Regions from separate parts of the Homo sapiens genome. Here regions 2, 3, 4, 5, 6 and 7 are each linked to region 1. Evidence: fine-mapped expression QTL. A gene starts in region 1. Each other region holds a variant in brackets. All regions are shown on one strand. Distances are between the middles of the regions.

The links. PIP is the estimated chance that this variant, and not a neighbour inherited with it, causes the effect.
Region 2: its variant is fine-mapped to the expression of CRIM1 in monocytes (TOPMed, PIP above 0.99). The same link has a PIP of 0.9 or more in monocytes after Pam3CSK4.
Region 3: its variant is fine-mapped to the expression of CRIM1 in whole blood (INTERVAL, PIP 0.94).
Region 4: its variant is fine-mapped to the expression of CRIM1 in whole blood (TOPMed, PIP 0.97).
Region 5: its variant is fine-mapped to the expression of CRIM1 in blood mononuclear cells (TOPMed, PIP 0.90).
Region 6: its variant is fine-mapped to the expression of CRIM1 in whole blood (INTERVAL, PIP 0.98).
Region 7: its variant is fine-mapped to the expression of CRIM1 in whole blood (INTERVAL, PIP above 0.99).

The regions. Positions count from the first base shown.
Region 1 is chr2:36,353,974-36,358,042 of GRCh38, reverse strand. It overlaps CRIM1 (cysteine rich transmembrane BMP regulator 1), which reads right to left and starts at 2,265. Exons shown (of 17, transcript NM_016441.3): 1 at 1,420-2,265. The coding sequence starts at 1,750. CRIM1-DT (CRIM1 divergent transcript) reads left to right here and starts at 2,473. Exons shown (of 2, transcript NR_037631.1): 1 at 2,473-2,955; 2 at 3,062-3,294.
Region 2 is chr2:36,469,535-36,473,603 of GRCh38, reverse strand. All of the region lies in intron 5 of CRIM1 (cysteine rich transmembrane BMP regulator 1), which reads right to left. Among named protein-coding and RNA genes, the nearest start is that of CRIM1, 120 kb to the right of the region's middle. The variant T/C (reference allele first, on the strand shown) is at 1,739.
Region 3 is chr2:36,246,805-36,250,873 of GRCh38, reverse strand. No RefSeq gene overlaps it. Among named protein-coding and RNA genes, the nearest start is that of CRIM1-DT, 110 kb to the left of the region's middle. The variant C/T (reference allele first, on the strand shown) is at 1,898.
Region 4 is chr2:36,450,628-36,454,685 of GRCh38, reverse strand. All of the region lies in intron 4 of CRIM1 (cysteine rich transmembrane BMP regulator 1), which reads right to left. Among named protein-coding and RNA genes, the nearest start is that of CRIM1, 97 kb to the right of the region's middle. The variant G/AG (reference allele first, on the strand shown) is at 2,000.
Region 5 is chr2:36,264,882-36,268,950 of GRCh38, reverse strand. No RefSeq gene overlaps it. Among named protein-coding and RNA genes, the nearest start is that of CRIM1-DT, 89 kb to the left of the region's middle. The variant C/T (reference allele first, on the strand shown) is at 2,148.
Region 6 is chr2:36,591,222-36,595,290 of GRCh38, reverse strand. All of the region lies in intron 1 of FEZ2 (fasciculation and elongation protein zeta 2), which reads left to right. Among named protein-coding and RNA genes, the nearest start is that of FEZ2, 4.9 kb to the left of the region's middle. The variant C/A (reference allele first, on the strand shown) is at 2,044.
Region 7 is chr2:36,476,249-36,480,317 of GRCh38, reverse strand. CRIM1 (cysteine rich transmembrane BMP regulator 1) reads right to left here. Exons shown (of 17, transcript NM_016441.3): 6 at 3,247-3,429; 7 at 624-821. Among named protein-coding and RNA genes, the nearest start is that of FEZ2, 120 kb to the left of the region's middle. RefSeq lists a silencer at 3,598-3,892. The variant G/A (reference allele first, on the strand shown) is at 1,714.

The sequences.
Region 1 (4,069 bases):
AAACCAGAAAACCCTCCCCTATTTTCCTGAACTGTCCAAACCCCAAACTATTCAGGTATAAATAAGTACCTATGTGTGTGTCTGTGCGTATTTAGAGAGAATCACAGCACTGAAGCCTTTTAATAGGTCCATTGTTATCCTTAAGGCTGTCACCTCCTTTTTCAGTATCCCAGCATACTAAACAAACACACACAAAGATGCTTCGGAATAAACCGTTCCCTGGACGGTGCTGGCTGTGAGTAGTGAGGAAGGCACGCCGGGCAGAGGGCGCCTGTCCCTCCTCGCCGCCTCCCCAGAAACGAGGCTGCTGCGTGCGCTCTGCTCACTCGCCAGGATGCCCCCGGAACAGCATCATCAGCCCAACGTCAGCCAGAGCAGGGATCCCACTTTTAACTGATGCTTACCGAACCGTGCCCCCGTTAGCCACATCAAAATAACTCACTGCCTCGCTCTAGACCCCAAACCAGACCAGGCACCCTGAAGGCCGACGCAAGCGGGCAGGGATTAAAGCCAACACGCACTAACATTGGCTCCCCAACGAGAAAGACTCCACTAATCTAATCTGTTTCTCCCACCGTCAATCTCGACACCGCGGAGCACAATGCGTGCTGGAGAAGCCAGCAGAACAATCCCCGCTGTCAAACAAACAAAAAGGAGGAACCGGCAACACGACAGGAAACACGCGGGTATCTGATATTAAAAAGCAGCCACTAATAGCAACAACTTTTTACTCCCAGGTGCAACCCCCACCCCCCTTTCCTTTCAGGAGAGAAAGCCTTTGACCGTTTACAATGGGCAAATAAATGAGTAACCACCGTGTGTAACTTCCCCTGGGCTGACATATTCCGCGGCTGAAACTGATTTATCTGCGGAGGAGGAGGAAGGGGTGAAGGAAGAGCTCAAGGAAAAAATAATAAGAGTCACTCGGGGAGTGCGAGCTGGAGACACGTCTCCTCCGCCAACAGAAAAAGGACTTTCGCGGCCGGCGTGCGGCTCACGGTGCCACACTGCGCCAGTGCGGGGAGGGCGGTAGGGCCGGGCTCCCCGAGGGGCTCGCGCGCGGCAGAATCTGCAGTGCCCCCCGCCCGCGGCGCCCCCACCTCGGGGAGCAAGGCCGGGCCACCCAGTCCCAGCAGGAACGGCCACACGTGTGCGCGTCTGCGCGGGGACAGGGGCGATCCTCCACTCGCTCGCCCCCACCCACCATACCCAACCTCGCCCGCGACTGCCTAAGCGTCGGGGGGAACAAGGAGAGGGAACGCAGGGCCGCGGGGGCACTCTCCTGGGGGCGGCGGCCGCCCCTCTTCCCGCAGAGCCCTCTTTCCTCCAGAAAGTCTCGCCCAAACTTTGTTCGGCACAACCAGCGCCGAGGGGGCGGCGCAGGCCAGGTGGGAGGGGGCCCGCAGCGGGCGGCCGTACCTTCGCAAACGCCCGCTTCGTACTCGGTGAGGGAGTCGCCATTGAGCGGGGGGCGGATGACACAACGCAGCCCCCGGTCGCAGGTTCCGTAAATCCCGAAGGTGCCGCCGCAGCTCTCGTTCCTCTGGCTGGCGCACGTGTAGCAGCAGCCGCAGACGCCCTGCACGATGCTCCCCGGGCAGTTCCTGGGCTCCTCGCACTTGGACTCGTCACAGGGCAGGCAGACCAGCGCCCGGGTGCCGGAGCGCGCCAGCAGCAGCAGCAGCCCCAGCAGCGAGACCAGGAGGTGCCCGCAGCCGGCCAACCCCCTGTCCCCCGCCACCAAGTACATCCTCCTGCGCCGCCGCCGCCTCCTCCTCGCAGCCGGGCCGGGAGCGGGGCGGGCGCCCTCCCCTGCGCGGGGCACACGCGCCGCCGCCGCCGCACCAGCAGCCCGCGGTCCTCACCGCCCCTCTCGGGGCCCCCGGGGCGCGCCTCCCCTCGCGGGGCGAGGCCCCCGCCCCTTCTGCGGGCCGCGCCGACCCCGAGCCCACGAGCCTTGGCGCCGGCGGCAGCTTCCCCTCCTCCTCCTCCTCCTCCTCCCGGGAGGGAGGGGGAAAAAAGAAAAAAGTTTCCTCCCGGCAGCTCCGGTTCAACCCAAACTTCTGGCGCGGCGGCGGCGGTGGCTGCTGCGCTCGGCTCCAGCCCGGGCCGGCGGCGCCTCCTCCCTCTCCTCCTCCGAGTCGGCCGGCCCCGCAGCGGCGCAGCCTCCGGGCCGGTCCCCGCCTCCCGAGCTGCCGAGTGGGCGCGGTGGCGCAGCACAAGATCCGCGGCGTCCGCTCCGCGCGCCCCGCTCGCCTCACTCCTGCGCCGCTCCTCCGGGCGCTTGTTTATGGCTGGAGCCTCAGCCGCTCGGGCTGCGCCCTCCCCCATCCTACCTCCTCCCCCAGACCTTCCCCCCACCCCCACGCGCCGCGCGCCGCTCATTGGCTGCCCCCCCTCCCCGGCCCGGCCGGCCCCCTCCGCCTCCCCCTCCCCCTCTCGGGCGGCCGGGCCCTTCCTCCCTCCCTCACACGCCTCCACCTCTTCCCGATCTCCTCCTCCCCGAGCCCGGCGCACCGAGCCGGCCGTGCCACCGAGCTGCGGCTCTGGCCCCGGCGCCGCGGGTGCGCTGCGGATGGGCTTGGGGCGCACCCAGCGAGCAGCGAGAGTCGCGGTGTCCCGGGCGCTCGCTGGCACCGTGGCCGCAGCGGCCGGCCTGGGAGCCAGGAGGGCGAGGCGGCTGCACCTTCGGGGCCAGATTGGAGTTCGAAGAGTGGCGGGTACCCCAGAAGCTCGGGGCCGGGGCGATGGCTGCAGCCTCGGGAGGGTATCGCCGGATCGAACTCCGGGAAAGGGAAGCAAAGGCATGGAACCTCCGCACACTGGATGAGAATCCATCTTCCATTCGAGCTGGGAATAGACTTTGTGAAAGATATTATGTAATGGAGTCTCGGGAACCCTGAGACCTCTCCAGCGAAGCTGAAGTGAATTAATTAAGTGCTTTAAACGGTCTTGGTAAATATTCCGCGGGAGCTGGGGAGGACCGTTGGGATGGCTGTAGCTTGAGTTGAATTTTAACTGTCCTCATTCTGGGTTTTGTCGCTCTGCTTTCTGTGCCAAGGTGCTGTGTTACGGGAGAGAGTGACTGGAAAGTAACAAAGCTGAATCTTTCTCCCTGGAGTAAGGCCGAAGACTGGATTACTACACGCCTAGACGTGACACTACACCCATAGATCTCATGCATCATTAATGCCATATGACATTGCCATTTTCTTTCTCAGTTCACGGACAAAAGTGGTGGGTTTTCATTGTCTTCACTGATTGTCAATGCATTAATAAAGAAGATGTGTGGTACATAGTCTTTGTGATAAATCAGGTAAAGAAGCAACGGAAGTGATGCAAAATGCACGGTGTGGAGATGGTTTCTCTTCAGTGGTTGTCAGAAAAGGTTTTCGTAATGATGGCTCTGTCATTGATGGGATATGAAGTAGTAATCCGCTCCGTAGTGACCTACCATTCACAAGATGGGTACCAGGTGAATAACATTAATTAATTGACAAAAAGTGACTGTGGTCAATGGGGGAAAAAATCGATCCCGTGGCAGGTGTGACGTGGGAATGGCTGGCCCACCCTCTGATCCAAGATGGTCTGGCTGCAGGAAGGTGGCAGCCAAGTGGATTCTGAAAATCGTGACTAATGAACCGAAAGTTAATAGCTGGCAGTGCAAGGAAAGAGGAAACAAAGCTACCTTTGAAATGTTATGTTTGTGGAACAAATTCATACTTACGATAAATATTTTAGTTTAACCACTCTGTCTAATCCTGAACCCAAAAGCCAGAGTTACCAGTGGACTATTCCCCCATGATGGGCATCAGCAAACTAAACATTTCTCCTATCATATTTCTTTGTCCAAGGAGAGGAAGAGGCTCATTAATTATCATTGATTATTATAGGGCCATGAGGAAGATGTTCAACCGTGGAAAAGGGGAGAGAGCATTGCATTTTCTAGACGGGTTTAAAGAGTTGTTGCAATGAAATGATTCCTGTAGTTGGGTGGGAAGTCCGATTAGATGATCTCCAAAGGCCCTCATACCCTGTGGGTCCATAATAAGTGTTAAGTGGCAAAATC
Region 2 (4,069 bases), 120 kb before region 1:
TTATATGAAACACCCATCATAGGCACGTCCATAGAGATAGAAAGTAGATTAGTGGTTGCCTAGATCTGAGAGCTTAGGGGGAAAATGGGCAGTGACTGCAATCAGTTCAGGAGTTTTCTGATGGCTTGATGAAAATGTTCTGAAACTGATTGTGTTGATGATTGCAGAACTCTGAGCATACACTGAAAACAACAGAATTGCACAACTTAAGTTGGTAAATTGCATGGTGTCTCCTAAAGCTATTTTTAAAAAAAGTACTCCCAAGCTGAAGAAAGTTCTCCTGAGGTGATGAGCCCTGCTCAATCTGCCGGTGAAAGCTGGATGATGATATCCCCATCTTTCAAGGGCTCTTCTGTCCATCCCCAAATCATTTAATATGTCCCCTTGCATGTCTAAAATACTTTCACCGCATTTGGAGGATATTTGCATTTGCATTGTACTCAAGGACAATTACTTTATATTTATTTTATAACAACCCCGCTAAGAAGACAGAACGAGTATTATTAGTACCAGTTTTTTCGATAATGAAGATGAAACTTAAAGAGATGACGTGATTTGCTTAAAGTCACATGAATGAGGCAGTGATTTTATGTGTGCACACGTACTACATGTGAATGTTTAAACTCCTTCCTTAGTGCTACATGGATACAACATTTTTTCAGAAAATTAATGTTAAAAAAGAATCATCTTACCATGGCTCAGAATTCTTCTATATACTTTTAGCTAACAAACTAATCTGAGTTGGGATTGAAAGGAATTGTGCAGCTACACTATAAGTTCCAAAAAGTATAGAAAACGGAGTACTTTTATACATTAAATTTGCAGGCTGTAGAGCGAGGCAAAATACTGTACTCTAACAAAATGAACATCCATGGAAACTAAAAAAAATAAACCAATCAATACTAATTATTTGGTTGAGTTGATCAACCACAGCTACCATCTGGGTGAAGCCACAACCCTGGTGCATGATCTGAGGAAGTGTGGAGGGCAGGTTCTGGTTATGAATAAAGCTGCTTCAAGTGGACTTGTTTTTATGGTAGGGTGTGCAGAAGCTTAAGCAGGAGGGGATGGGACTGACGAGAGAACTGTGGCACTTAGGTTTCACTAGCAAAAGCACAAGGATCAAGGGAGTGGAAGTGAGAAAGATGGAGAATCCTAAAAACACAGCCTGGAAACACAATCAATCTTTAAGGGTGAAAAAAGTCACACAACACAATGAAATCTGTTTGATGTTCAAAGAGATTTATAGAGGCTCTTAAGAAAAGTATATGATAAAAAGGCTACCTGTGGTTTTTGAGGAGCAATGACCAATTACTTCTTCACCTATCAGGGGTAGATGTGAATCTCAGAACAGTGTGGAGATTGCCACAATCTCCACAAAAGGATGATTTAAGTGGATGTGGAAAAGTGTTATGAAGAAATAATTTACTGTGTAATTTGTACTTCTCAATATGAAGCACAGAAGTGCCTTTTTAGTGATTTTTTGTATGTGTTTTGCGTCTGCAAAATTAAACTTTAAGTTTCTAAGTTCTGGGATCTTCCCTTCCTTCTTGAATATACTTCAGAACTCCTAAAAGAGAATTTTGTAATATAGACTATTAGTACATGCTACTGCCTACCAAACTACACTGATTGGTGGATGGTGATAGATACACCTCAAAGATATTGTGGGTTCAGTTCCAGACCAGCTCAAGCAAGTCACACAAACTTTTTGGCTTCCCAGTGCATTTAAAAGTTA[T/C]GTTTACACTGTACTGTAGTCCATACTTGTCTAACCTGCAGCCTGCGGGCCACATGAGGCCTAGGATGGCTTTGAATGCAAACTTTCTTAAAACATTGTAAGATGGTGTGTGTGTGTGTGTGTGTGTGTGTGTGTGTGTTTAAGCTAATCAGCTATCATTAGTGTTAGTGTATTTTACATGTGGCCCAAGACAATCTTCTTCTTCCAATGTGGCCCAGGGAAGCCAAAAGATTGGACACCCCTGCTATAGTCTATTAAGTATACAATAGCATTATGTCTAAAAAACAATATACATTCCTTAATTTAAAATACTTTATTGCTAAAAACTGCTAACGATCATCTGAGCCTTCAGTAAATAGTAATCTTTCTGCTGGTGGAGGGTATTGCCTTGATGCTGATGGCTGCTGACTGATAAGGATGGTGGTTGCTGAAGGTTGGGGTGGCTGTGGCAATTTCTTTAAATAACACAATAATGAAGTTTGCCACATTGACTAACTCTTCCTTTCATGAAAGATTTCTTTGTAGCATGTGATGCTGTTTGATAGCATTTTACTTACAGTAGAACTTGTTTCAAAACTGGAGTCAATCCTCTAAAACCCTGCTGTTGCTTTATCAACTAAATTTATGTAATAGTCTAAATCCCTGGTTGTCGTTTTATCTGGTGAAGATGTTGTCACAGCATCCTCACCAGGAGTAGATTCTATCTCAAGAAACTACTTTCTTTGCTCATCGATAAGAAGAAACTCCTCATCCTTTCCAGTTTTATCATGAGATTGCAGCAATTCAGTCACATTCTGCAGGTTCCACATTTAATTCTAGTTCTCTTGCTCCTTCTACTACATCTGCAGTTACTTCTTCCACTGAGGTCTTCAGCTCCTCAAAGTCATTCATGAGGGTTGGAATCAACTTCTTCCAAACTCCATGTTAATATTCTGACACCTTCCCCTGAATCACCTGTGTTCTTAATGGCATCTAGAATGGTGAGTGAATCCTTTGCAGAAGGTTTTCAATTGATTTAGTTCTGATCCATCAGAGGAATGACTATCTACAGCAGCTAATCTTATGAAATGTTTTTCTTAATTAACAAGACTTGAAAGTTGAAATGACTCCTTGGTCCATGGGCTGCAGAATGGATGTTGTGTTAGGCACGAAAACAACACTAATCTTGTACACCTCCATCAGAGCTCTTGGGAGACCAGGTGCATTGTCAATGAGCAGTAATATTTTGGAAGAAATCTCTTTTTCTGAGTAGTAGGTCTCAATGGTGGGCTTAAAATAATCAATAAACCATGCTGTCATCCAGGCTTTGTTGTTCCATTTATAAAGCACAGGCAGAGTAGATTTAGCATAATTCTTAACAGCCGTGGGGTTTAGCTTAAAGTTATCAGCTGCATTAGCCCCTAATAAGAATCAGCCTATTCTTTGAAGCCAGGCATTGACTGCTTCTCTCTTGTTATGAAAGTCCCAGGTGGCATCTTCTTTCCATAGAAGGCTGCTTCCTCTACACTGAATATCTGTTGTTTAGTGTAGCCACCTTCATCACTTTTCATAGCTAAATCTTCTAGATAACTCTCTGCAGCTTCGACATGCAGCTTGTCCCATCCCTCCACCAAAACAAATTAAAACCAAAGTGAAAAGAGAAGGACTATTCATGGAGGATGTTCTCTCCATCTGTTCATTCAGGCTAGTGTTTTCAAAACTCAGGAGTTCTTGAGTTCTGTGTGTTTTTAAATCCTTAAGTTTTCCCTTTATTAATTATACTGATGACATGTTCTTAAAGTTGTGAATGTGGACTAGCCTCAATAAATATCTGGTCTTGCTAACTATACTCTCATAATTAATGGCTCGGTATTAAATACTATAAGACTAAAAATATGTTTGCTAGTTTCAATTGGCTTATTCCACAGGGAGAAGAGGGGAAGTGTGTGTGTGTGCTGGAGGACACCAAGCATATCCTATTTCAGGAAAAGGGGAAGAGAACAACCCTTAGAAAGGATTACAACAATGTGTATCACTCTTTAACAAAATTAGCTTAACAAGGCCCCAGGAACACGAGGGGTGCTCAATAAACACATACTGAGTGGAGTATTGCTCTCAAAGTGCCAGAATATCTCCATTATTCTATCAGTAGAAGACATTACGTCCTTAGAAACATTATGAGCATAATTGCTATATAGACAGTGGGTTCTTAATGTTTTCTGTACTAGTGTTTTTTTTTGAAAATTAACAGCCTGCAGGTCTGAATTTTCTAGGCCAAAATTTTACATGAGGAGCAAGCTGATGCTGGGTACGGCTCCCCTTTAAATGGTGATTTCACATGTTACTGTCTTA
Region 3 (4,069 bases), 110 kb after region 1:
AATATCTTTCAGAAACTATGCTTCCTGGGATCCAGTCAAAGTATCTTAAATAACAATTCCACTTAGACTTTTCCAGCAGGCAAGAAAGGGTAATATTGGTGGCTTATAAAGTTTTGGGCTTATTGATACAGTTTGTGGACTGGAACAAAAAGGAGATTTCTTTATTTAATGAAGTTGATCTCAACTATCCCTGTGCCTCAGGGATAGATTTTTTTAAAAATCTGGAGTTTTTAAGAACTAAAGGTGTTGAGCCCAACTTTTTGAGATTCCATGTCAATTGGCTGGGTGGCTAGGTGGGGGGAGAAGTGAGTATTTTTACAAACCTCTGAGTAGATTCTAATGTACAGTCATAGTTGGGAACCATTGATTTGTCACCAAAATGGTAAGCTGTGAGTGCATATACAGATCCAACATCATCTTCAGGAAACTAGGCAAGCCATAGCTTCTTATGTCTTTTGTGTGGTATTTCCCTTGGAGTCCTAAAAAAATGGCTTAAACTTGAGCCTCACAATGGGTAAGTTTGCCTCTGCTTTTTCTTTTGCAAAGCTATTATATAAATGTCCAAATTATTGATGAAGATCAGGGTGAGAGGATTAAAGAGAGGGAAAGGCAGAGAGCATCTCTCACAACATGGAACAATGAAAGAAAGCACATGTGCTTTTGTTTTGGCAAAGTATGCCACTAATCTAGTTATATCCATCATGTCAAGCTTGCTTACAAATGTATTGTTGTCTGTCTATAGAGATGTGACATTAAGTAGCCCATATACTGTGTTTTTTATTTGTTTATAGGTTAATTGTTCAGAATATTGATCTCCTGGGCTCATTTTCCCATTCTTTCTGAAATACCCTTTCAAATCAACAAACATAAAATAGAACAGATTCTTCCACACAGGGGACTCTTAAATGATGCAGATTCTTTCTACTTGGTGCCTATTAAAAAATCACTTTTGTAAGAAAGCATAATCCAGTATACATATTGCTGCTACTCCAGAAGTTACTGCATTATTTTAGGCCCTAAATTTTGGAGGAATGGATGAAACTAATTAGGATGCACTAAATTTTTGACCACTTACCGTTTTTGTTAATTTAGCTATATATATATATATATATACACACACACACATATATATATACATATATACATATATATACACATATACACATATATACATATATACACATATATACACATATATATACACATATATATACCTTTAAATTGCAATAAAGTTCTATACATTTGAATTCAAAAAACTATTTAATGATGAATTACTGAGTGAGAGCTGCTGAGACAGTATGCCTGAAAAAAATGCTATAAAAAATAAAAGCCTAGTACAGCCATTATGGAAAAGAGTATGGATTTTCCTCAAAAAGTTAAATATAGAACTACCATATGATCCATCAATTCCACTTCTGGGCATATATTCAAAGGAAACAAAATCAGTGTCTTAAAGGGAAATCTACATTTCCATATTCATTGCAGCATTATTCATATTAGCTGAGATATGGAATTAACCTGTGTCCATCAATGAATGAATGAATAAAGATAAGGTGGTATATGCACACAATGGAATACTATTCAGTCTTAAAAAAGGAAATCCTGTCATTTGTGACAACAAAGGCAACTATGGCATGATCTTGTATGAAATTCCAAAAAGTCAAACTAATAGAAGCAGAGAATATAATGGGGGTTTACAAAGGGCTAGGATGGGTGGGAATGGGGAGATTTTGGTTAAAGGATAAAAAGTTGCAGTTACACAGGATCAATAAGTTCTGGAGCTCTACTAAACAGCATGTTGACGCTAGTTAATAACAATGTATGTATATATGAATTGCTGAGAGAGTAGATTTTAAATGTTTTCACCACTAAAAATAAGTATGTGAGGAGATGGACA[C/T]GCTAATTAGCTTGATTTACTCACTCCACAATGCATACGTATATCAAAGCATCACATTGTACACCGTACATAAACTTTTTAAAATCAATTACAAAAAATTATAAAATAAAAGTAAATAGGAAAAAAAGCTTAATTCTGAGTAGTGGGGATGCAGGCTGTTATGTGCCACCATTTTCTACTTCCCATAGTTGTCGTTACACAGTAACCTCTGCCTTAATTTTGTAACGTATTTTTTTTTTTTTTTTAATTAACAAGTACATTCAAAGCCAGTTGCTTGGCTCTTGGGTGGGTATGTGAAGAGAAGCTTCCTCAGGGCCTGGCGAGGGAATTTTAATGCCCTTGATGAAATTATGTGTAAATGAGACACTAGATCAAAGAGCACCGCAGGAGATATACCTAATGTAAATGACGAGTTAATGGGTGCAGCACACCAACATGGCGCATGTATACAAATATAACAAACCTGCACGTTGTGCACATGCACCCTAGAACTTAAAGTATAATAAAAAAACAATCAAACAAAAAAACCAAAGAGAACCGCAGGGAAGGCAGAGCCAGAGGCAGAATCACGCGGGAAGGCCAACATCTAGAAGTCCAAGATGGCTTCTCAGAGTGAGTGCAGAGAGACTCTGAAGAAGATCTGGAATCTTCCTTCTCTTCATATTTAATTTTCTAGGGTGTATCTCATCCAAAGAAAATTCTGTACACGAGAAAAATGTTTCTGGAAAGCACTGGTGCAGCCTCTGTCAGGTACGGTTTTTTTGGGGGGCCGTATTTCTTAAGTATAACTTTAGTTTTCCTCATACCACAAATTTAGGTATCTCTAGGATCTTATCTACATGGATGTGCTCTTGTTGACTGAAATGTGTTTTTCTAGCCATGAACAGGGCACAGGTAAAATGGTAGAGGGTGAGTGAGGATTTTGCAATTATTGGAAACAGATGTGCATACATATTTTGATATTGTTGGAAGTATTTCTTCCGTGTAAATTCCTAGAGGAGAGATTGTTGGGTTCAGATGCAAAGGAACGCTCTATGTAATTTTGTTAGGCATTGCCGAATTCCCCTCCATTAAGATCACATCAGTTTGCATCCTGACTAAAAATGTGTGAGAGTTCTTGTATCCCCTGCTGCCTCAGCAACGGAATATATTGTTATACTTTTTAATTTTTGCCAGTCTGACAGGTAAGAAATGGTATCTCAGTGTGGTTTTCACAGGTATTAGTCTTGTTATGAGGAGGATCATTTTTTCATGTGTTAAACAGCCATTTGCACAGTGTGTGCATGTGTGTGTTTGTGTGTGTGTGTATGAATTGTGTTGTTTTTTGCCAATTTTGCTATTGGCTTACTGAAATCCTTTTGATTTCCTTACTCTCCTGCCAATAGCCACACAATCTGAGGAAGGGAACCTAAACATTATATGCAGGCAGAAGCTCCCAAGTGCTTGATTTGGGTTTGGAACCAGGCTGGTTGCTTAGGAATTAGCTAGGTAATATAGATTAACTATATCTTTCTTCAGGTTTCTGATTCAAAACGACCAGGGCGGTCCCAAGATCCTGTGTTTTTAGCAACTAATCCTGGTGGTTTTGGTGCCCAGCCATGTGTGGGAATTATTGATAAGACTGCGCTTCCTGTAAGAACACCAGCTTCAGGGTCCCTGACTGGGAAGAGAAAGAATGTACTAGAGGAGAATGAGCTAGAGGTGGCTGGAGAAGGCTGCTTATACTTCAGGAATGCATCAGAACATTCTAACTTACTTAATTTTACCCATCAACTCTGTCCTACCTGGGGAGAATGGAGGTGCTGTTCAATCCATTCCTGATCCTCCAAATGCACTTGGATCTGCATTTGTTATTACTCATTCCTGGAGTCTCATCTTTGCAAGTGTATTGCAAGTGAATTATCTTTAATGTTTTCCGGAAGCATATTCACCTTGTGTGTCATTTTGGAAATACTGTTGTGAAATTAGCATGGCATTGTTAATTAGATAGAACTGATAGTTTGGTTATTTTCTGTTCAAAAGCAGGGAAGAATAAAAATACATTCTTATATTTTAGTTAGTATATTACAATTAGGCCTATGATATGGAAACAAAATACTAACATTTAGTTTGTAGAAGCCACTAGTTCTAGCCCTCTTATTCTTCATTGTTTCATGGGGTTAAACTGAGGGT
Region 4 (4,058 bases), 97 kb before region 1:
ATATCAGTGACTAATTTAAAAATAGAAAAAAAGGGGCACATTAAAGAAAACATGTCTTGGGGTAAAATTCAGCCCCAAGAACTACTAACTGCAAACTGTGATTCAACCCTTTGACTTCCTCTGTGCTGATACTCAAGCTGTTAAGAGCAGCTAGAGAAAAGTCAGAGCTACTCTGCATCTTCTACCCTGAAGCCCCCCATCATGCCTCAGAGACCTCGGTTCATTCCTGACGATCACTTCTTCCATGATGCCTTCTCTAACTAGCAGCACAAAGATAAACAGCTGATGCTGTATGTGTGTGTGTGTGTTTGTGTGTGGTGGTGGTGAGGGGTGTGAGTGGCAGTTTGTGAAATGACCATCAAATGTGGGGGAGTGGGCACAGAGGGAAGGCATTCCAGATAGAGGAAAGAACACACTAAATTTACAAAGGCAAGAAAGAATACAGTGTGTTAAGTTTAAACTAATAGGTTAGCCCACCAGAAGTACACTATGTACTGAGAGGAGGACTGGGGTTATTATGGGGGTACTGGCAGGAGTCATGGCCAGAGAGGGAGGTCAGGGCTGAGTAATATGGGGCCTTGCCTACCATACTAAGAAGCGTCTTCACTTGTAAGAAACAGGAAAGTAACAAAACACCTTAAACAAGTAATGCAGTCTTGCAATGGAGTGGTTATCTCAAGAAAACCCAACATTGTCATGAATTCCCTTTTTCTTGAATCATAAAGGTAGGTGGGATTAGTGTTAATGTTTTAAGCTGCAAGACACATTACAAGTCGAAAAATCAACAACAGCCTAGAATGCCCTTCTCTCTTTCTCCATCTTGTGAACTCTGACTCATTCTTAAAGACTCAGTTCAAAAGTCAAATCTGACCGTTCTCCAAATAGGAATTAGCATGTGTTTGCTTTGCTAACTTTGTGTTTTTTGCACACTTCTACTACCAAAGCACACAACACTTTAAACTACAATGACTTATACATATTTGCCTTCCCTTTATAATATATGCTCTTAGACATCAGCGACTATATTTTATTCCTGCTGGGTAGCCCAATGCCTGGCACATGACAAATGCTCAAAATATCTGCTCCCTGAACAATCCAAGAACACTATGGGGTTTTGATGCTAGGACTTTTGCTGCAGACTAATTGTCTATCTAATTTAGTTAAAAGCATTCATTACTTACCCGTGCTAGGTACTGATGAGAATGAAATATATAGGGTGGGTCCTTGCCCTCAAAGAATCCACAATCTAATGTCTTAGGAATTATCATTAAAACTCTTCATGATCTAGCTATGGAAATCAAAGTCCCTGATCATATTATCATAAGAGCCATGACATATAACTTCCTTTCTTTTCAATCAAAAGCAAAGTCAGGAAAGAATAATTTACAAACCACTTGCTGTATAATACATTCACAACAGACTGACCAAGGCCAAGAGAAACCAGCTGTCTCTACCTCCTGGGTTCTAATTAGCAATTAAATGTCTACCAAATATAACCCTGAATTATCTGCAAACTGTTGCAACTACAATGATGGGGAACCCAATAAGCCATATCCAATGTAAAGGTGTACATGAAGAGTAAAATATATTCCGTGATTTGGGTTGCTTTTGGTATTTTCATTACAGGTAGGGCTTTTACATTTTAGACTTGCTTATTAGCTATGCAAGTAATTTCACAAAGCATTTTTGCAGAGCTGTTCTGTTTGCATGTGCCATGATGATGACATAGCAAAAGAGGGTATGGAGAGACCTCTGAGTTTCAATATTATCACGCTGTGGATTCCGCTTTCAACTTTACTGAAAGGCTTACGGAATTCAGTTAAGTTACCTTCTCTCAGTCCGACTCGGAGGGCCACATATACAGTGTCTGGTGATATCCATGACCACTCGGATTAAACTGGAAGCCACTGACTGAGAGCCTTCCCTGCTTGTTTTCGGGACTAAGACAAATACAAAATAAGGCTAGACACTAGGTCAAATTTAAGGTGAGATAAAAAAA[G/AG]CCTAAGGCCCTAGTACAGGAAACACAGCACGCACGCATCTGAAGAGAATTATTGACAAATCAAACACTCTACTAGGGAGACAGTTCATTTCCAATGGGCAATGGCTTTACTTCTAGGAAAGCATATTTTCTTCAATCTGGGGATAGGTCCAATAATAACATGGAATTCCTACAATTATTTTGTTTTAAAAACATCAGAGTTTAATATAGACTCTGGCTTTTTTAGTCATGAGTTGACTCGCTCTTTTGGGCCAAAAATTACTGTGACAGAGGGCAACAGAATAGATGTTCTTTTCTTAGTTGAGAAAGATGAGCTTCAAATACACTTCCAAATTTTTTTCTGCATGTGTTTAAAAACAGAGAGAATGCTACCATAATAGTATGTCAGGAGTCAGGAATGTTTTAAATCTGTGCTGTGCTAATGCATATTTTACTTATTATATAACTTAATTTTATTTACTCCCAAAAAGCAGCTGGAGAAATTATTCAAATTAAAGGGAACGACAACAACAAAAATGAACTGAATTATGGAAATTTGTCTACTAACAGATCAATCTTAAAAAAAAAAAACCCAAACTGTTAAGTGCCATCTTCTCTGAGACACTATCTTAGAACAGATGGACATGATAATGAATTACAACACTCTTAATTAGATAAAGTCCCTTTGAAAATGCATATGCAGGGATAGTTAAAACTGGTTAGCTTGAGTAGGCATGATATAAGCAACTTAATTGCCTAGCACAATGGTAAAAAGCACATGGATCTACAGGAAATATTATTTGATGGCCTAAAAAAACTTAAAACTGTCTCCAAGAAGAAAAAAAGAAGTGCTTTCTGAGCTCTGAACATGACCCTGACAGTTCCAAGCCACCCTCAGGAAGTTTCTGGCTTTGACATATTTGTCAGGTTGGGTTGATGCGCACTGTGTTGACAGCCTCTGACTCTTGCGTGATCCTCCCACCTCCCAACACCCTCCTAAAGGCTTCAAACCGCAGAGTTATGGGCTGTAGCTCTGGAGATAAGAGTTGACAAACTTTGGAAAGCTCTACCACGGAAGGATAAGCATTTGAGCACACAGAGCACTAAAGGATTCTTGATCCTGCTGCTCGTTCCATTTCTCAGAAGCAGACAGATGTTCCAGAACAGAGGAATAAGAAAATCCCTCCTGTCCTATTGAGTTTTCAGGAGGGAAGGGAGGGATAAGAAAAAATTGTCATCTGTTGTTCCATATGTATATGTGCTTTTTGAGGTCCTTGATTTCTCAGTTTGGATTTAAAGCTGGCATATTACTGTATGGTTTTTCTTAAATTTGGTTTTCATTGTTTGGTAGAAAGACTGTCTATTAATTGATTCTTTCCTTGAGGGCAGATGACTGTGTGTGTGTGTGCATGTTGTGTGTTTCCTTCTTATTACCTTCCAAAACTTGGGAGCCTTTTTGAAACTGGCATTGGTCATATCTGTAAGATGTTAAGACTCTTTAAAGCATGTGCCACATTTTATTCACCACTATACCCCACACCAAGCCCAGTGTTCTGCCTTCCATGAGGTCCTCGATGAGTATGTAATTATTTAACTGTTTTAACCGATTGGAGCATTTTAAAATCTGTACCTTGTTTTCACTCACTGTAGCTATGTGGTTAGATTAATTGGATTTAACTCAAGTGCTTCTGAAGGGAAGGGATAACCTGCCAAAGATTCCATTCGGCTGGCCTCATCCAGTATGAGTCAATTTCAGGCTGTGAATTCTGGAACCCCAGAAAACTTCTTCTAAACATCTCTATCTATTCACAAGAAACAGTGTGCTAGCAATCTGCTAAGATTCTATTATCATAATGCAAGACAGCACCAACAAAATGAATTTTCTTGAGAGCACAATTTCAAATTGAAGCAGCTTGGTGCAAATATTTAGATGTTATAGTGAAAGCAAACGACATTGATGACCTTCGCTCTGGTCATGGGCTGTATATTTGACATATTTTTCAGACACAATGGGACTACCATCCTTCCTTTTATCTTATTTCCTTTCCTGGAGTTACAGAGTTTGGAGCTGTGATGATAG
Region 5 (4,069 bases), 89 kb after region 1:
AAAGTCACTCCTGCAAGAAGCCCAGAGGCTTCTATCTGGAGGCTTGATCTTTTAATCTAATTTAGATTTTTTTGTCTTGACATTTTTAACTCATATATTGATATTTTTTATTTTCTTTCCCGGAAGTCATTTTAAATCTTTGTAGAATAAGAGAAGTATTTATGAATACATTTAAACATACACAAATACACATTTTAATCAACCTGAGGAGGGTGATATGTGGACTATTGCTTTATAGTCTAAATGGTCAGAGAGATAGATGTACACCATTCAAGTTTTGCTTTATCTAGTAAAATAACTTTCTAATTGAGAATTACAAGTACAAAAACAACAAATAATTACACATGAAGTATTCATTTAGAATATTATTCGAAATAAAAAACAGATTAACAGACTATTATAAATAAGTCTATGATTTAAGGTAATAATACTAAGATTAGGTTAAATGATTTATTTGCATCTTTTGCCTTTGTTTGGGAGGTGGCTCCTCCAAATATTAGTTTTGTGATGTTAGGCAGTTTATTTAATGTAAGCCTCATTTTTTCTTATCTGAAAAATTGGGAAATTAATTATACCTACCTCATAGGATTGTTTTGAGGATTAAATAAGTTAATACTTTTAAAGGTTGGAACAGTAAGCAAATATAGACATACCTCATTTTTGCTTTATTGAGCTTCACAGATACTGCTTTTTATTTTTTTAATTGAAGGTTTGTAGCAACCCTGCATTGAGCAAGTCTATTGGCACAATTTTTCTAACAGCGTGCACTCACTTCATGTCCCTGTATCACATTTTGGTAATTCTTGCAATATTTCAATTTCATTATTATCATGTATTTTATGGTGATTTGTGATCAGTGATTTTCTTCTATTCTGTGGGTTGTTTTTTCACTTTGTTGATAGTGTTCTTCGAAGCACAAATGTTTTAAATCTTAATGAGGTGCAAATTATCTATTTTTCATTTGCTATTTAGGTTTTGCTGTTATACCTAGGAGTCTATTGTGAAACCTGAGGTCATAAAGATTTACTTTTATGTCTTCTAAGAGTTTTACAGTTTAGCTCCTGTAATTAGGTCTTTGATCTAATTTGAGTTAATTTTTATATATGGTATGAGTTAGGGGTCTAACTTATTATTTTCCATGTTGCTATCCAGTTGTGTCAGCACCATTTGTTGAAAAAACTGTTCTTTTGCCCAGTGAATTGTCTTGGTAGCCTTGTGAAAAAAAATCAATAAATGTGAGGATTTATTTCTGGACTCTAAATTCCATTGCTTATTCTTATATCAACACCATTTTATCTTGATTACTATAGTTTAGTAGTAATCCTTCTAGTACTCCCATTATGTATGTGTTGATGACTTAATATCTCATACTTTTCTGAAGCTGTTTTCATTTCTTCTTTTTTCCTTGAATTGCATAATTTTTATCAATCTATCTTCAAGGTTTCTAATTCTTTCTTCCGCCAGTTCAAATATACTATTGAGCCTCTCTCATAAATTTTTCATTTCAGTTGTGTTTTTCAACTCCAGGATTCTGACTTCCCCCCTCCCCTCTTCCTCTTCCTCCTCCTTCCTAGTAATTGTTACATCTTTATTGACATTCTTTATTTGATGTGACCTTGTGATTACACATTTCTTTACTTGTTTAATTGTGGTTTCTTTTAGTTCTTTGAAGTTATTCACAATGGCTTCTTTTAAGACTTTATCTGTTAAACTTAACATCTGGTTCCTCTCAACAGGCAGTTTCTTTTGCCTGATTTTTTCCCAGTGTGTAGGTCACGTTTTCCTGTTTCTTTGCATGTCTCATATTTTTTTTTTTTTGCTGAATCTGGACATTTTATATAATATAGCAACTCAGCACTGGTCACCCCCTTATGGGGCTTGTTATTGTTCTTTTGTTTCTTTTTTTTAAATTTAACTGACTGACTGTATTACTATAGTGGCATCTATTCTTCCCATGCAGTCCAAAGCCTTTCATGTTGCTCTTCAGGCTTGGGTGTGGTCATAGCCACTCTGGGATGACAGTAATTTTGGTAGTTGATTCATGTTTTCAACAATGCCCTGGGTATAAACTGTGTCACAGACTTACCCAATCAAATTTGATCACCTTTAAAGGGATAGTTTCTGAATTCAATGTTTGAAGGTTGTTG[C/T]TGTTGTTGTTATTGTTTGTCACAAGAGGGCTCCTCCCAGCTGTCTCTTTCCTTGGTTCTCTTAGGCAAACTAGCTAGCTGACAGCGTAGCCTGTATGTACAATGCGTCTGCCAGTCTCCTCCCAGTTGCCTTTCACCACAACTTCCACTGTTTCTTAGGGTGCTTTTAGGCCTGAATTTTTCCACACTCTCTTGATAATGAAGACAGTTTTTTTGTTGATGGGAAAGAGGCTAGGGGATATGTGTTTTTCTGCCTGCTCTCTCCCCTTAGGTAAAATCTCTGGAGTCGGGGGACAATGGTGTGCTTCTCTTTGAGTCACACTCTCACTTTAGGAGCTGAGCACTCATTGGAGGCAGACAGAGGTCTCAAGTCTTCTTGGTTTGCCTCTCCCTGTGTATGAACTCTACCTCTGAACCAGGGTAAGGGTGATTAGTGGCTCAGTATTTTCAGTGGCATCTAACACAATATAGAGCCTCTCTCCTATAAGTAGGGACTGGACAGAAGAAGGGAGCATGCACCTCTTGGCTATACTCACCTTGAACTTCAAATGAACAACAGGTAGCTGGGGAAATGATGAGAAACGCTGACACCCTGCCTTTCCTGCGAACAGAGCCCTCTGACTGGGAGCTGGGTAGGAGAGAAAACTCTGTGTTCTCAGCTGTCCCAGCCTGGAGAGAAGTTTCCATCTCACAGAGCTCGGGGGAGGAGAGGGCGGAAAGAAAGGGAAGAATAGGTCTTGGTTGAAATAACCGCGGGCTCTTGCTGTTCTTACCACATTTTAGTAGATTTTATTGAACAAATATTTCTTCATTTGATGTATGCCCTTAGGATCCTTTCCAGAGACTTTAAATGGTTGCTCTTTTTCCATAAATTTTTTTTTTTTTTTACCAATTTTTCTAGCATTAGGGAGGGGGGACTCCATGGAGCTTCTTAGGCTGTCATGCCAGAAACAGAACCCATGTATTTACTTTTACATGATATAATAAATACATGTGATAGAAATGATATTATAAACACATGTGGAATGAAACAACACATGTTCACCTATCTCTATGTGCTGTTTGTTTATACGATTCCCCTACATTCCCATCCCTCAGAGGGACCAAGTATTTTTTTCCTTTTTATTTTATTTTAATTGACAAATAGTAATTGTATACATTCATGAGGTATAGTGTGATGTTTTGATATGTGTATACATTATGGAATGATTAAATCAGGATAACTAACATGTCTATCTCTCAAATACTTTTTTTTGTGTGTGTGAGCATTTAAAATCTGCTCTCTTAGGAATTTTGAAATACACATTACATTATTGTTAATTATAGTCATCATGCTGTGCAATAGATTTTAAAAACACATTCTTCTGTCTAACTGACATCAAAGGGAACAAGTTTTGACATTTTATGTTTATTATTTCCTTTACCTTAAAATTATTTTATCAAATAATTATTCATGTGTAAAATATATATTTAATATTAATTATTTTTGAAATTACATGAAGACTTGCTTCAATGTAGCCTTCTTAGACATAATTTTTTACTCATACTATCAAGATTTTTCTACATTGCACTATGTGGCTGTAATTAATTCATTTTTACTTTTACATAGCATTTCATAGGGTGAATTGATCATATTTACAAGTGTATTCTCCTTTTGATGGGTACTGGGTTGTTCTCAGTTTTTCTTTTCAATCAGTGTTTAGCCCACTTTATTATGACCTTCATCTCTAGCATTTGACTGAAATTGGTGACAGTAAGTCATTAATTATTTCTATGTTGCCAAATCAAACAGAAACTTTTAAGTTGCTGGGAGCTGAAGGCCGGTTACATTAAGTTCTCATCTTACAAGTCTACACATTACTATTCATCTAAGTTGGCCTCTTTCTCCTTGAAAAAAATCTCATTTTCTTGACTTCCATGAC
Region 6 (4,069 bases), 240 kb before region 1:
ATGGTGAGTTGTAAAATTATTTCATGATATATGACAGTGTAATAATAGAAATAAAGTACACCGTAAATGTAATGTGCTTGAATCACCCCAAAGCCCTCCCCGACCCTTGGCACTTCATTTAACTTCTCTGAGCCTCAGCTTTTGTTTTGGTTAAATATGGATTGTATTTACGTACTGAGGTTTTACTTATAAGAGTATTCTGCAGGATTCGATGTTGGCAGGACTTTGACCTCCTTGCAAAAGAGCTGTCCTGACCGTTGTTTACGACTGGTTGTAATACTTGGTGATAAAGATGAAGGCAGTTCATATGTCTTGACTGCAGAATTCTAGAAATCTTTCACTAGAGTTGCCTCTGTGTCCTTCCAACTACCATTGTTTTGACCTTGGTGGAGACTGTTAGTTGGCTTTCATTTTCTTGGAAGATCAAACTCACTGACAGGCACTTCTAAGTGAAATATTCCATCCCATTTGCCTTTTTCTTATAGCCTTGTTTAAGAAGGAGCAAATCAGCAGACAAAGCAAACTCCTCAAATTCTGGACTGTCTTCACCTGCTAGTGTATCCTGCTTAAATTCCTGCCAGGATTAGGTCTATAGTCAGTGATACGGTTTGGCTGTGTCCCCACCCAAATCTCAACTTGAATTGTATCTCCCAGAATTCCCACGTGTTGTGGGAGGGATCCAGGGGGAGGTAATTGAATCATGGGGGCTGGTCTTTCCTATGCTATTCTCATGATAGTGAATAAGTCTTACAAGATCTGATGGGCTTATCAGGGGTTTCCGCTTTTGCTCCTTCCTCATTTTCCCTTGCTGCCGCCATGTAAGAAGTGCCTTTTGCCTCCTGCCATGATTCTGAGGCCTCCCCAGCCATGTGGAACTGTAAGTCCAATTAAACCTCGTTTTCTTCCCAGTCTCGGGTATGTCTTTATCAGCTGCATGAAAATAACCTAATATAGTAAGTTAGTACCAGTAGAGTGGGGCGTTGCTGAAAAGATACCTGAAAATGTGGAAATGACTTTGGAACTGGGGAACAGGTAGAGATTGGAATAGTTTGAAGGGCTCAGAAGACAGGAAAATGTGGGAAAGTTTGGAACTTCCTAGAGACTTGTTGAATGGCTTTCCCAAAATGCTGACAGCAATATGGACAATAAAATCCAGGCTGAGGTGGTCTCAGATGGAGATGAGGAAGTTGTTGGGAACTGGAGCAAAGATGACCCTTGTTATGTTTTGGCAAAGAGAACTGGTGGCATTTTGCCCCTGCCCTAGAGATTTGTGGAACTTTGAACTTGAGGGAGATGAGTTAGGGTATCTGGCAGAAAAAATTTCTAAGCAGTAAAGCATTCAGGAGGTAACTTGGGTGCTATTAAACGTATTCAGTTTTATAAGGGAAGCAGAGCATAAAAGTTTGGAAAATTTGCAGCCTGACTATGCGATAGAAAAAAAAAAAACCCATTTTCTGGGGAGAAATTCAAGCTAGCTGCAGAAATTTGCGTAAGTAGCAAGGACCCTAATGTTAATCCCCACGACCATGGGGAAAATGTCTCCAGGCCATGTCAGAGACCTTCATGGCAGCTCCTCCCATCACAGGCCTGGAGGCCCAAAAAGGAACAAGTGGTTTCGTGAGCTGGGCCTAGGGTCTGCCTGCTGTATGCGGCCTAGGGACTTGGTGCCCTGTGTACCAGCTGCTCCAGCTGTGGCTGAAAGGGGCGAGAGTACAGCTCAGGCTGTGGCTTCAGAGGGTGCAAGCCCCAAGCCTTGGCAGCTTCCATGTGGTGTTGAGCCCACAGGTGCACAGAAGTCAAGAATTGAGGTTTGGGAACCTCCTTCTAGATTCAGAAGATGTATGGAAATGCCTGGATGCCCAGGCAAAAGTTTGTTGCAGGGGCAGGGCCCTCATGGAGAACCTCTGCTAGGGCAGTGTGGAAGGGAAATGTGGGGTTGGAGCCCCCACACAGAGTCCCTACTGGGGCACTGCCTAGTGGGGTTGTGAGAAGAGGGCCGCTGTCCATGAGTTTATCAGGGGTTTCTGCTTTTGCATCTTCCTC[C/A]TTTTCTCTTGCTGCCACCATGTAAGAAGTGCCTTTTGTCTCCCACCATGATTCTGAGGCCTCCTCAGCCATGTGGAACTGTAAGTCCAATTAAACCTCTTTTTCGTCCCAGTCTTGGGTATGTCTTTATCAGCTGCATGAAAATGGACTATACAGTCATTCAGTGTTTGAAAATTTCTTATCCAGGAAGGTATGAGCCAGAAACCCAGCAAGTTTAGTAGTCCACAGAAACCCAGCAAATTTAGTAGTCCACAGACATTGCCTCTAATTCTACTTCACTGGCATTAGAGGAGATATTCCAACAGAGAGGAGAATAGGAATGGACTGTGCATATGGGAGCTTTGCTGGGTAGATGAGTTAGTTCTCTAGAGATTTTTGGGTTCACATTTTTATTAAGGCTAATTTTATTTTTTATTTTATTTATATATTTTTAGAGACAGGGTCTTGCTCTGTCTCCCAGGCTGGAGTACAGTGGTGCCATCATAGCTCACTACAGCCTTGAGCTCCTGGGCTTAAGCAGTCCTCCTGCCTTACCCTCCAAAAGTAGCTGGGACTGCGGCACATGCCACAGGCCTGGCCAATTTTTTTTTTTTTTTTTTTTTTGTAGAGATGTGGGGCTCCCTTTTGTTGCCCAGGCTGGTCTTGAACTCCTGGCTTCAAGCAATCCTCCCACTTTGGCTTCCCAAAATGCTGGGATTACAGGCATGAGCCACCAGGCCCATCCCTAACGTGCATTTTAAAGCCAAACATCATTTGGGATGTTATGCTTTTAGCCGTTGCAGTCCTATTGCTTCTTTTTAGCGCCCAATCCCTATTTGTTAACTATGTTATGTCTGTATTTTAAAATTTTCATTCTTGGGCTTAATACCTAGGTGATGGGTTGATAGGTGCAGCAAATCACCATGGCACATGTTTGCCTGTGTAACAAACCTGCACATCCTGCCCATGTACCCCGGAACTTAAAAAAAAAATTCATTCTTATGTTTATGCCCCAGCCAGGATTGTTTTTGTATCCTAGTGTCTTACACACTTGGAAAGAAAGCCTATTGCTTATTCACAATTAGATACCTAATAAACATTTTAGGGTGTTTTTTTCTACATGACATCTTTGTGTATACCTCTAGCTAGTAAGTAGCTTGTATGTTTAGTGTTTGATTTTACGTATCCCAATTAGATTTCAAGTCACTTGTATCTCTGAACTTTAGTTTTTCATAAAACATCATGTTTTATTGTGCTGATTATTACTTTGGTATTGAAACCTGAATTTTGGTTGTGAAATTTGAGTTTGGTGTTCTTATCTGGTGTGGTTTGGGACTCTCTTCAATACACCTCATTTGAATTAATGCTTAGAGTAATGGAGCTGGAAGGAGTATCTGCTTCTTGTCCAGGTCTCTCATTTATAGAAGGGCAGAGGATACCTAGGGAGGTTAAGGGGCCTGGCCAATGACTCGTTATTTGAAGAAGGATGGAGATGAGAGTTTGTTTCCCTAGTCTCAGTCAAATGCCCTTACCATTTGACCCTCTTGCCTCCCTGTAATGCTGTTGGGTAATAAGGTCAGGTAACTGCATTGGATAGAGCCTGGGTGTGTTTTATTGTGAACTCCCTCTCTTTCTCCTTTTTGTTGTATCTGCCTTAGTGCTTAGCTTCTTTATTACAAATTAGATATTAAATCCTGTTCTCACATTGAGAGCGAATTCTTTCTCCAGAAAGGATAACAAACCTTTTGTTTGAGAGAGATTTTTCACTTTTTGAAATGGTCTGTTTGTTTGAAGTTACAGAAGAAAAATAAGTGTAATGCACAGTTGTATTTATTATTCATGTGACCCTGGAAACATTTCTTCCCCGCCCTGTGTTTCAGTTTCTTCATCTGTAAAATGAGGTTAATAATGGTTCCCCCTTCTAATGTTGTTTTTGAAGATTACATGAGTTAATACATGTAAATTGCTTAGAACAGTGCCTAGCACCTAATATAATGGAAGTGTTGCCTACTGCCTATTGGCAGTTTTCTGTACGGCTTCACCTTCC
Region 7 (4,069 bases), 120 kb before region 1:
AGGAAATGAGCTGGAATAGGAGTCGGGACAGAAAAACTAGTCCAGGATGCCTCAGGCTTCCCTCCACTGAACAAGAAGAGAGATAGCAAATGCAGGTAACCACGACATAAATAACAGCACTAGAGGAATTGCAAAGCCACAGCCATTGGTATATGAGAAGTAGAACAGATACTCGGTGACGGCACTAGGCAGTGGAAATTGGCTTTCATGGTTCCAGTCTTTTCTTCTAGTTGCCAGGACGCTTGGGCATATGGAAGCATCACAAGTCAAAGGTGCTAAGATTGACTCATCGGTCTCATTTTCAATTTCATTTTGTTAGGCTGACCTTTGGGTGTTAATTAGGTTCAAAGTGAACTTAATTAAAATGTACATATTCTTATACTGTAAAGTATTCAGACGCGCATATTTGCAATGGCAAAATAATGACCACACTATTCTCATTTCACATGTGCAACCTTTCCTCAAATCATCAGTTTGAGCTGTTTGATAAATTTGTTGGCAACTGGTAACAGCGTGAAGCAGACATTATGCCCAAGGAAATAAACAAACAAGAACGTACGCTGGTAGAAGCTTCTCCAACAGAAGACATTCACCAGGGACTCATTAGCATCTGCAAGATTTACCTTCGCACACAGGGCAACACTCCCCAGGCACTTTCACAGGGTTTGTGCAGGTCTGTCCGCAGACGGTCGCAACGCAGTGGCGTTCACCGTTGACGCACTGGCAGAATGTGCAGTCGTCTTCCCGCCACCGGTCTCCGTGGGCAAGGATCAGGCCATTGGCATAGCAGCCAGCGGGATTATTAAAAGGATACACTGGATCTAAATGAGAACATGAGTTCAGAGTTAGACTGAGCATCTTCTAAATCTTATCTCTGTCAGTACCCAGAGACATTTTTTCCCTGGGTTCTAGTCATCAGCAGTTCTATTCCCACTGTGATCAACAGAAGCGCAGGGTTGCATGAGGAGTCTCTGGGGGTGCATGCAAAAGAAGCTGTCACACTGAATTTATGTCTACTCATCCTGACACAGCAGTCCCAGAGAAGAGGATCTGTAGTCTAAAAACCAATGTGCAGGTGTTATCACTCTGTAAAGTTGGAAAGCTTTGTGGCAAGAGCTGTGGGTTGGTAATTAGAAAACATGACTCCATTTTAGGCTCTGACAATGTCTTCGCAGTTGTAGACATAAATGTTTATCAAACCTCAACTTCCCTAACTGTAAAGCGGAAGCAACAATGCCCTAAGTCAGAGTGATATTGTTACTTCTAAAACTCTATCTCATGTACCTGCACGACCATGTGGGCAACAGTGGTCTTGCTGTGGACTTGTTCATGACAAGGCTAGTCTAGACATACCATGGGTCACTGTGCCTTGGAGGAGCGCTGTGAACTTAGGCCATTTTTTCTCCCATAAGTTGGGAAGCTAAGCTGCAGCCCCAGGTGGGAGACAGAAGTAGCCAAAGCTACTGTAAAAAAAAAAAAGTTTCTGAGGTTACTGACAAGTATATAAATACTGCATATGAAACCCTCTCTTATCCCTCTATTGAGAGCAACCAGATAAATTACTCAATTTTCTTTCTCAGAAATACATAAAAAACTGGCTTCAACAAACAACTACTGCTGTGCTGAGAGAGGAATCCAGACAGTTCATAGAGTTTGGTCATCATTATTCTAAGGACATAGTGGGACATTATAATAAAGTCAGTTAGAAGGTCA[G/A]CATTTAAAATAATGCCATCACAGCGTTAGGAAGGCAGTCTGCCAGAGAGGGAGGCGGCCAATGGACCTGAGCAAGAGAAGATTTTTTAAATTCCTGTGTAAAAAGTATTAGAATACATATTTTTCTACGTTGAGCCTGGATCTGAATTCCAGGAAGTGAGACATAACTGGATCCATGCCCAGACAACTCAGTATGATGACTACACAGAGGTTCGTATCTACATTTTTACAGCATCAACTGCTGCACAGTTTCAGAACTATTGCAGACTGGGGGCAGGTAGGGAACAAAACAATTAGAAAGGTTAAAAATTTGAAGTAATTCTTTTTAATTGTCAACATCACCTAAAAAATAAACTACTTTTCTCCTATGTTGGGTAAAATAACCTCTAGTAGGGAAAAGAACTCACTGTTATGAACTATGTTAGGAATGCAATTTTTATACTTTAAACATTTTCAGATCTTCAATATTATGTTGTAAATATTGCTCAAATATCAAAAGGAGAAAATTTTATGAAAATGAGGAAGTATGGAAAGTGGCATGACACTGTGCCCTCCCACTTTGTGTGCAGAGATCAGGCATAAGATTAACACATGCGACTTCAGATTGAAGATCTGGGGCCTGGTTAGGACAGGAAGGCTCACAAGACCTTCCTTTCTGGGGAAACAGTGTTGTGTTGTCAGAAGAACACTATAGACACAGTCAGGCACGGGGTTATTGTTACTGGCTGCAGTGTAAAGTGACTTTACAGGCAAGTGACTTTTCTCTTCTGAACTTCAACATCCTAATCTGTAAAATGTGTGGGTTGCAGGGAGTGATATTCAGAGCAACTGTTTTGAAATGCTTATTGTTTATGAACATCAGTGATGGGAAGATGCAGCCTGTTGAAGGAACATGAACATATTACTTCTTGGAGAGAAAAGGGGAATCCAGACAAAGCAGATTCCTGAGAGTCACACCTGACACCTGGCTGGGCCTTGAGTTGGTGTCACCAGGTGGTGACCTGATACCACGACCCCATGTGAACCACCACATATTTTCAGAGAAGCAGTAGCAGGTCCCTGATCTCCCTGGAGGGTCCTGGGTATTACGACAGTGGCAGAGTTAGTTCCTCTCTGGGCCGGCAGGCTGAGACTGTCAGGGTGAGGCCCACATTATCCTAACTGAGCAATCTGAGGTGAGGAGGTGGTGAGCTCTAATGCCAGGGTGAAGATAAAGCTTTGCCCTAGGACTTGCTGAGGAATTGCTAGAACTGCAGGGGAGGAACGGAAAACAACTCTGGGACATCTCACGTTGCCTGTGGAAAGAGGTGACCCATTGTCTACACCCAGGCATAGCTTCCCTTAGGGAAGTGTTTCCACACACTCTACCTGGCTTTAACATGCTAAAAGACAGACCATGGTGTCTTAAAAAAGGCTAAAAAAGGAACTTCAATATTCCTTTACTTTTGGATGAGACTGAATTAGGACGATTTTGATTTTAGAACTCTATACCATGTATGCTCCTGTTAATCTGTAATTAGCACCTTTTCTTACCTTCACACACTGGGCAGCACTCTCCTTCGGGCACGTAGTACCTCTCGCAGTTTATCTCACCACACTGGGCGGTGAAGCAGATGGCAACGCCCCCTTGGCATCGACAGAACCGACAGTTGTCCATTCGAAACATGTCTCCATCATAATATTCCACATTGTTAAATACGCAGGCTGGCTTTGTATCTGAAAAGAGTTAAAACAAACAAGGCATATTTGTAGTCATTTTTTAGTTGTGTCCTTTGATGTTTTTCAAACAGCCTCTAGAAAATTTCTAATAGGAGGTTATAAGTTGATGGAAATTTACTCAACTCAATGTAAGTTCATGTAACAGAAAACAATAAAGTGAAGCAAAACAAAATAAAATAAAACACACTGTTATCCAGTTTACACCAAGGAACAGAAATTCCCCCTAGGAAAATCTACACTGACTTCCTTCCATCCCAGACAAAGCTAAACTTTATGACCATGACACTCACATATCTGGTATGTGCTTTAAAGTGATTCTATTTGTTTGGTTAAATCATTGTCTACCTCAAATGAATGATCCTGCCTCCACATTAGGTTTTGTTCTGCTTCAAAAATTTTATTATGGTCTTTTTTGAAGTGGTGATGTTCTGTTCCCCCAGTGCTCTCTCTTAAATTCTTTTTCTCTGTACATGGTATAAACACGTATAATTTTAATAGTGTTTGGCCTTTAACAAAATACTCTCTATATGTATCACCTCACTTAATCCCTATAATGAAGGTCTGACATAGGTATTATTATCCTGAGTTTAAAAGTGAGGAAATCCTAGGTAGTTTACTCAAAGTCACACAGCAAACG